Linked DNA regions of Homo sapiens. The protein of the gene in region 1 purifies or fractionates together with the protein of each later gene. This does not show direct contact. Each region holds a gene or a part of one and is shown on either strand. Other genes may lie near its edges.

The links. Proteins that work in one complex are often made in the same cells at the same time.
Region 2: the proteins of MAP3K15 (region 1) and SLC7A5 purify together in Homo sapiens (affinity purification with mass spectrometry, with the first as the bait; one large-scale study listed by BioGRID). This does not show direct contact.

What each region holds. Positions count from the first base shown.
Region 1 is NC_000023.11:19,369,009-19,372,508, forward strand, and holds part of MAP3K15 (mitogen-activated protein kinase kinase kinase 15), read right to left. Parts: intron 2,523-3,500; coding exon 2,337-2,522; intron 2,057-2,336; coding exon 1,951-2,056; intron 212-1,950; coding exon 46-211; intron 1-45. UniProt on the Homo sapiens protein: Serine/threonine kinase which acts as a component of the MAP kinase signal transduction pathway. Once activated, acts as an upstream activator of the p38 MAPK signal transduction cascade through the phosphorylation and activation of several MAP kinase kinases.
Region 2 is NC_000016.10:87,866,708-87,870,928, reverse strand, and holds the start of SLC7A5 (large neutral amino acids transporter small subunit 1), read left to right. Parts: upstream 1-1,421; 5' UTR 1,422-1,506; coding exon 1,507-2,044; intron 2,045-4,221. UniProt on the Homo sapiens protein: The heterodimer with SLC3A2 functions as a sodium-independent, high-affinity transporter that mediates uptake of large neutral amino acids such as phenylalanine, tyrosine, leucine, histidine, methionine, tryptophan, valine, isoleucine and alanine.

The DNA.
Region 1 (3,500 bases):
CTGTCCCAGCGCCTGCTCCCAGAGGAGGGCCCAGAAGCTCCTCACCTGTTGGTCTCCTGTCTGAGCTCACCCAGCTGGAGGCTCAGGTGCTGCTGGTGGGGCTGGGCCTCCTGGCCAGGTCCGGTGGCTGGGGGATAGCCCTCTTCCGCTTCATCCATGTCCTTATCTACCCCTTCAGTCTCACAGGTAGGCTCAAAGTGGGCTCGGAGCTCTGCAAATCACACAAGACATGACAATGGTGAGCAAACCAGGCCAGTGGGGCCTGGGGTCGCAGACACCCAGGTCAGCAAACCGGGCTGTTCAGAAGCTGGCCCAGCCCGTGCCATGCTCCATTAGGGGACTGCTGACTTTACAAATGGAGAAGAGACTGTTCCATTTGGTTCTCTGCAGCGTAAAGTTGATCACGCCAGTTTCCACAGGAAGAAATTGAGGCTTAAGGATATGAAGTGAACCAAGGCCAGCGTTCAAAAGGTACAACCAGGCCAGGAGCAATGGCTTACACCTGTAATCCAAGCACTTTGGGAGGCTGAGGCAGGCAGATCACTTGAGGTCAGGAGTTTGAAACCAGCCCGGCCAACATGGTGAAACCCCATCTCTACTAAAAAATATATACAAAAATTAGCCAGGTCCAGGCGCAGTGGCTCACGCCTGTAATCCCATCACTTTGGGAGGCTGAGGCGGGCAGATCACAAGGTCAAGAGATCAAGACCATCCTGGCCAACATGGTGAAACCCCGTCTCTACTAAAAAAAATTAGCTGGGTGTGGTGGCGCGCACCTGTAGCCCCAGCTACTCCGGAGGCTGAGGCAGGAGAATTGCTTGAACCTGGGAGATGGAGGTTGCAGTGAGGCGAGATCGCATCATTGCACTCCAGCCTGGGTGACAGAGCAAGACTCTGTCTCAGAAAAAAAAAAAAAGAAAAGAAAGAAATAAGTAGAGCCAGGCTGCCACCCAAGCCTGTGCCGTTTTACTACAGAAGGTGTCTGCTTGGAGTGGGAGAGGAATTAAGCACTGGGGTTTCCCAAGCCTCTCCTGCAGCTGAGCCTGGGCTACACAGTGCATTCGGGAGGGTGGGCTGGAGCCAAACAGCAAGGAGCTGAAGGAAAGGGGGAAACCATGATGGCGACAGAATGGGCTGTAAAGCCTCCCTTAGCAGGAAGAAGTCACCAGAGAAGGAGAATCAACTTTGGTAACATTTCAAAAAGGAAATTGACAAAAACCAAAAACTTCTGTAACTACTACATGATGATTCAGAGAGAGGAATCTGAGCCACTGTATTGTCAGTTACCCAAGAAACATTCCTGAGTGCACGATGAAGGGGATACCAGAGGACTGGAGGATCCTTCCCCTCTGGCCCCATGCTCCCTTTTAATTTAATATTATTTATGTATTTGTTTATTTTTATTGAGACGGAATCTCACTCTGTTGCCCAGGCTGGAGTGCAGTGGCGTGATCTCGGCTCACTGCAACCTCCACCACCCGGGTTCAAGCGATTTTCCTGCCTCAGCCTCCCGAGTAGCTGGGATTACAGGCACGTGCCACCAAGCCTGGCTAATTTTTTGTATTTTTAGTAGAGACGGGGTTTCACTATGTTGGCCAGCCTGGTCTTGAACTCCTGACCTCAGCTGATCTGCCCACCTCGTCCTCCCAAAGTGCTGGGATTACAGGCATGAGCCACCGCGTCCGGCCCCATGCTCCCTTTTGAGATTGTGAGTTATAGTTTATGTGTAGTCACCTTCATCATGCTTCAGGGACACGTAAATACAGCACCACGAGATGCTCTCAGAACTACAGAATCAGCCCCGGAAGAAGTCTATGACAACATGCATTTAATTCCAAGGAAGTAGATAACCAAGATGGAAAAGAGAAAAGCAACAACTGTTGAATGAAGAGGATATTTCTTATCTTTTCACGGCCTAAAGCTGACCTTGACCACAAAGGGGGCGCTCACCTGGGATGAGAATGGTGACCGCGGCCTGCACCGCTCGGCGGATGATGTTGTCCATCGCGAACATCCAGTGGGGCCTAATTAAGTGGTTCCTCAAAATTTTATTTACCTAAAAAAAAAAAAAATAATAAAATAAACTAAAATCACAAAAATCCAGATTTCCAGTGCATTGCACGGAGAATCACGGCAACCTACACTCATCCTCTTGGGGGCCGCATGCAATCAGCCAGTTCACCCAGATGCCATTTCCTGGACTTCATTGTTTAGGAGGAGCTGCTGAAGCTTGGGATTCAGGTGTATACAGTTAAGAAGAGATGGGGGCTATGGGAGGAGGTGGTAACTGAATTCCAAGATCTGGTGTGTTCCCTAGGGCCAGATGGAGCACTTACGGCATCCTGAAATCCGAACAGCACCAGGTGAATCTGACTGATGGACGAGCTGTCAAAGTCCAGGTCCACCTTGAGCTTTGATATTGTGGTCGCCATCACCCGGTGCTCTGGGGAGCGGATGAAGTCCCTCAGGATCCCAATGATTTGCTTGATGTGTCCAACTGAGAGATGCAACTCTTCGGAACTCTGAAAACACACACAAATCATTTTCATTGAGTCAGATTGAGAGAGCGAGAGTTCAGAACACACTGGGGGAAACAAGATGGTCCATTTGCTAAGAAACTTGTGGAACTCCCAGGTGAGAAGGGGTCTCTGTTTGTTCCCTCCATAACCTTCCTGTCAGGGTCCTGGCCCCTTCTCCCTGGTGGGTGTACAGCTAAGCCCCTCTGTGAATGGCTTCCTGTTTAACCCCTTGTAAGAGCCCCCATCAAGGCCATAGACATAGTTCAGAGCGGAGCAGCGGCCTCTTCCTAAAAGGCCCTTTTCCATCTGAAATAAGGGAGGGGGGCCGGGCACGGTGGCTCACACCTGTAATCCCAGCACTTTGGGAAGCCTAGGCAGGCAGATCACCTGAGGTCAGGAGTTCAAGACCAGCCTGGCCAACAAGGCGAAACCCCATCTCTACTAAAAATACAGAAATTAGCTGGGTGTGGTGGCAGGCGCTGTGTAATCCCAGCTACTGGAAAGGCTGAGGCGGGAGAATCACTTGAACCTAGGAGGCGGAGGTTGCAGTGAGCCAAGATCACACCGCTGCACTCCAGCCTGGGCGACAGAGTGAGACTGTCTAAAAAAAAAAAAAAAAAAGATTAAAAAACAATAATAAATAAACTGAAATAATGGAGGGGAATCGGTTTGCCAGTCCTGTGCCCTAGTTCAAAATCAGTTATTTTCACCCATAACCACCCTCCCCAAGGTGGCTGTTCTCCCAGCTTCTGAGGGCAGCTCTAGCGTGTCCTACAGCTGGGGATTAACTCCAGGACTCAAAACCGGATCATGAGAGGCCAGAGAAGGTGCTTCGGGCTTTCTGCTACAATCTGGCTGGTTTTCACCAGGGGGCAGCACCGCCCCACCAGTGCCTGGAATCACTGCGGTATCTGCAAATTCATGTTTCGGCAGAGCTTTTTTTCTTTGTATTTTCTTTTGTTTTGTTGGGGAAGGGAAGGA
Region 2 (4,221 bases), on another chromosome or scaffold:
TGTGGCTGCCTGGGCTGCTGAGATTTCGCTCGGTTTTATCACCGCAGAGGAATGCCCGACATACCGGGGGGCGAGCAAGGTCCAGAATGACAAGCCCTGGCATTCCTCAGCCGCCCCCTCCCTGGGGTGGGGCCTGGACATTCCTGGCTGCAGCTAGAGGTCCCAGCACGACAGGGATTCTGACCCCCCTCCACCACGGCTATTGTTCAGAATTCTGTGGATTCCAGAGGCATCTGCCCAGCAGACTGTCTTGCTGTGAACACCCAGCTCTGCAACCGGTGTTTGCGTGTTTGCCCTGGGAGGCTGAACGCTCACCCAGAACAAAGGCCTCCCCACATGCCTGCTGTGAGCTTCCAAGGACTCGTTTGCACACACGCCAAGGAACCCCGGGGTGGGGTGATACTGAGGAGCTTCCTCCCTGACCCACACACACCCTTTGAACAGGTCTTTGGCCGCTCACCAGTCTGGTCAATCTCGGGGCAGTATTTATATTCCTTCCCATTTCCAGGCCTAGGAGCCTTGGCATCCTGCTCTCGCCTCTAACTGAAATTACCTCTCAACCCTTTTTAGCTAAGATGCCTCTCGCATTCCCTAGGAATAACAAGCTTTAAAGCCCCTTCACACTGAAGCCTGCCTTTGAATTCCCCAGGTAGATTTGGGGGTGGGGGTCTTATGGCTCCCAGCGAACCCCCGGTTCTGTTGATTAAATTGAGCTCAGGCAGATTGCTGGCTTCCCAAAGCCTGTGTTATTACTGCTTCTCAAAGCTACGGGCACCGGATCGCCGTCTTTGGCAAGATTCTTTTGGGATACAATGGGAATTACTGGGTGGCCTCGGTTCGGTTCTTCCCTCGTCCCAGTTCGCGGCTCACCAGCCCCACTGATGCAGCCCCCAGGCTGGAAGGAGGCTGCAGGAGCTTCCCCTCAGGTCATCCTCTCATCCCTCCCCCGTGCCCCAGGAGCTGGTTGTGGGGGCGGTTCCATCCCCTCGGCCCATCCGGGACAGGAGCCTAGGTTCCCTTCGGGGGGTACCCCAAACTCCATCCTTGGCCTCAGGCCAGCCCTGGTGCACTGCCCGCTCCCAGGCTTGACGAGAGGCTGCGGGCCAGTGGGTGAAGGGGCGCGCCCTGACTGCCAGGCCCCGCCCAGGCGCATCCGGGAGGACGGGCTGGGATGACGCGGGCGCCGGGAGGGGGGAGGTCGCGAGGCCGGGGTCTCCATGGCGCAGGAGGACTGGGGCCTTCGAGGACCACGCGGGCCTGGGAATAGCCCGCCAGGCTGGGCCGGACGACGCACGTGCTCCGAGCTGGGCCGAGGGGGCGGGGCTGAGGGACGGGGCCGGGCCACGGGGCGGGGAGGAGCCGCGGACGGTGGGCGGGGCCGGCGGGCCGGGGCCTAAAAGGCGGCGCGGGCGGGGTTCCTGACGCAGCTGCGGGCGGCGGGCGGCGCGCACACTGCTCGCTGGGCCGCGGCTCCCGGGTGTCCCAGGCCCGGCCGGTGCGCAGAGCATGGCGGGTGCGGGCCCGAAGCGGCGCGCGCTAGCGGCGCCGGCGGCCGAGGAGAAGGAAGAGGCGCGGGAGAAGATGCTGGCCGCCAAGAGCGCGGACGGCTCGGCGCCGGCAGGCGAGGGCGAGGGCGTGACCCTGCAGCGGAACATCACGCTGCTCAACGGCGTGGCCATCATCGTGGGGACCATTATCGGCTCGGGCATCTTCGTGACGCCCACGGGCGTGCTCAAGGAGGCAGGCTCGCCGGGGCTGGCGCTGGTGGTGTGGGCCGCGTGCGGCGTCTTCTCCATCGTGGGCGCGCTCTGCTACGCGGAGCTCGGCACCACCATCTCCAAATCGGGCGGCGACTACGCCTACATGCTGGAGGTCTACGGCTCGCTGCCCGCCTTCCTCAAGCTCTGGATCGAGCTGCTCATCATCCGGCCTTCATCGCAGTACATCGTGGCCCTGGTCTTCGCCACCTACCTGCTCAAGCCGCTCTTCCCCACCTGCCCGGTGCCCGAGGAGGCAGCCAAGCTCGTGGCCTGCCTCTGCGTGCGTGAGTACGGGGCGCGGGCCGGGGGTTGGGAGGTCGTAGTCTCTGGGTCCCTGCATCCTTGCATCACTACGCCCCTGGCTCCCACATCTCTACATCTTTACGTTCCTGGACCATCCCGGCAGTTCTAGGCTAAGGTCATTGGTCCCAGAAACCACGTGCGTTTCTTTCATTCATTCTTTTACACTTCTCCCCACAGGCTGGGAATATCTTCAGTGACGGGACAGCAGGGTCCCTGCCCTGCCCTTCGGTGGGCATTCCATTCCCCCACTTAAGCGGTTTAGGCAAGTGCCACCCTCCCGTTGGCCCCGCTGAGCAATACTCCCAGCCTCTTGCGTGGCACCCACGTGGAGTAACTGAGCAATCGGTTTACTGTTAGAGCTCCGATTGCTGACTGGTTGGTGAGAAGGAAATTGCAGTTAAAAAAAAAATCATTCATTTCTGCTCTCCACACCAGCTCGTCAGGAATCAGTGACACGGGCTGACTCATAAGAAAACAGTAGTAATAACATCGTGTGCGGGTAGTGACTGGTGCTGATTTAGGCTAAGGGATCCCCCCTGAGGGTTCCCAGTAGTGAGAGAGCGGAGCTTGGCTGCAGATTCAGTCTGTGTTGCAGTGAATGGACGTGCGGGTCCCAGGTTTCTCTGGGAAACAGCCATGGGGCTCCTGTTTTGGTGGGCATGGTGCTGGTGTGTTCTTCACCAGGCCAGAGATAACTGCTTTTCAAAATAGTTTTCTTTTTCTTTTTCTTTCTTTTTTTTTTTTTTTTTTGACACTGAGTCCCGCTCAGTCGCCCAGGCTGGAGTACAGTGGCACGATCTCGGCTCACCGCAAGCCCGCCTCCCAGGTTCATGCCATTCTCCTGGCTCAGCCTCCCGAGTAGCTGGGACTACAGGTGCCCGCCACTACGCCCGGGTAATTTTTTTTGTATTTTTAGTAGAGACGGCGTTTCACCGTGTTAGCCAGGATGGTCTCGATCTCCTGACCTTGTGATCCGCCCGCCTCGGCCTCCCAAAGTGCTGGGATTACAGGCGTGAGCCACCGTGCCCGGCCTCAAAATAGTTTTCTTGTGGGATTTCAGGGGGAAAATCACTTGTAGCAGATGCCACATGATTTGGTTGGGTGGCGTGGGAAGGTGGGTCTTGGCAATTCTCAGATTCATCCCATGGCATGGATCGGCCTGCATCTCAATAGTGTGTGTACACATTCAAGGTGGGAAGGGCTAATTTATAGTTGGGGTCTTGAGCCATGAAATCAGGGGAGTGGCTTCTGACTGGCAGGACCTGTTGGCGCTGTTTTCTGCCACACCGTACTTTGGGGGGGAGGGGGAGGGGGAGGCATTTCTTCATAAATGTGAGAATGCCCCGAGGGCAAGACTCAGCAGGGCTCTGTGTGGTTTCTCTGAGGCTCTGAGTCGAGCAGCCGCACCACCATGCAGGTCAAAGCCGGGAAAAATCGTAGCAGGACAGCAGTGGGGAGAGCCTGTGCCTTCCAGCTGGGCGTTGGAGATGTGAATGTAGGGGATGACTCTGATTTCTTTTTTTGTCATTAGAATTTCACTGGTTCAGTCTCCCTCCCGCCTAGGTACATGTCGGCCCGGTATGTAACGACATGGATAGTAGCTTACGCAGCCTGCACTCTTATCTTTAAAAAATGAACCCCTGGTTGGCTGGGTGTGATGGCCCACGCCTATAATCCCAGCACTTTGGGAGGCCGAGACGGGCGGATCTACCGAGGTCAGGAGTTCGAGACCAGCCTGACCAACATGGTGAAACCCCATCTCTACTAAAAATACAAAAATTAGCCGGGCAGAGTGGCTCACGCCTGTAATCCCAGCTGCTTATGAGTCTGAGGCATGCTCCGGGATGTGGAGGTTGCAGTGAGTTGAGATCCCGCCACTGCACTCCAGTCTGGGTGACAGAGCAAGCCTGTCTCAAAAAAAAAAAAGCAGCCCCTGGGTGCTGAGTCTCTGACTTCCTGCTGGTGCCAGGAGTGAGTCGTGGGAAATGCTTCATTGGCCACCAGGAAGGAGACGTAGGATGGGGCGCTGCCTAGTTTTCTCTTTCTAATAAAAATCACATCAGTCATACATGAATTCATCATCATTTAAAAATTCAAACCAGCCAGGCACTGTGGCTCACACCTGTAATCCCAGCACTTGGGAGGCCGAGGCAGGCGG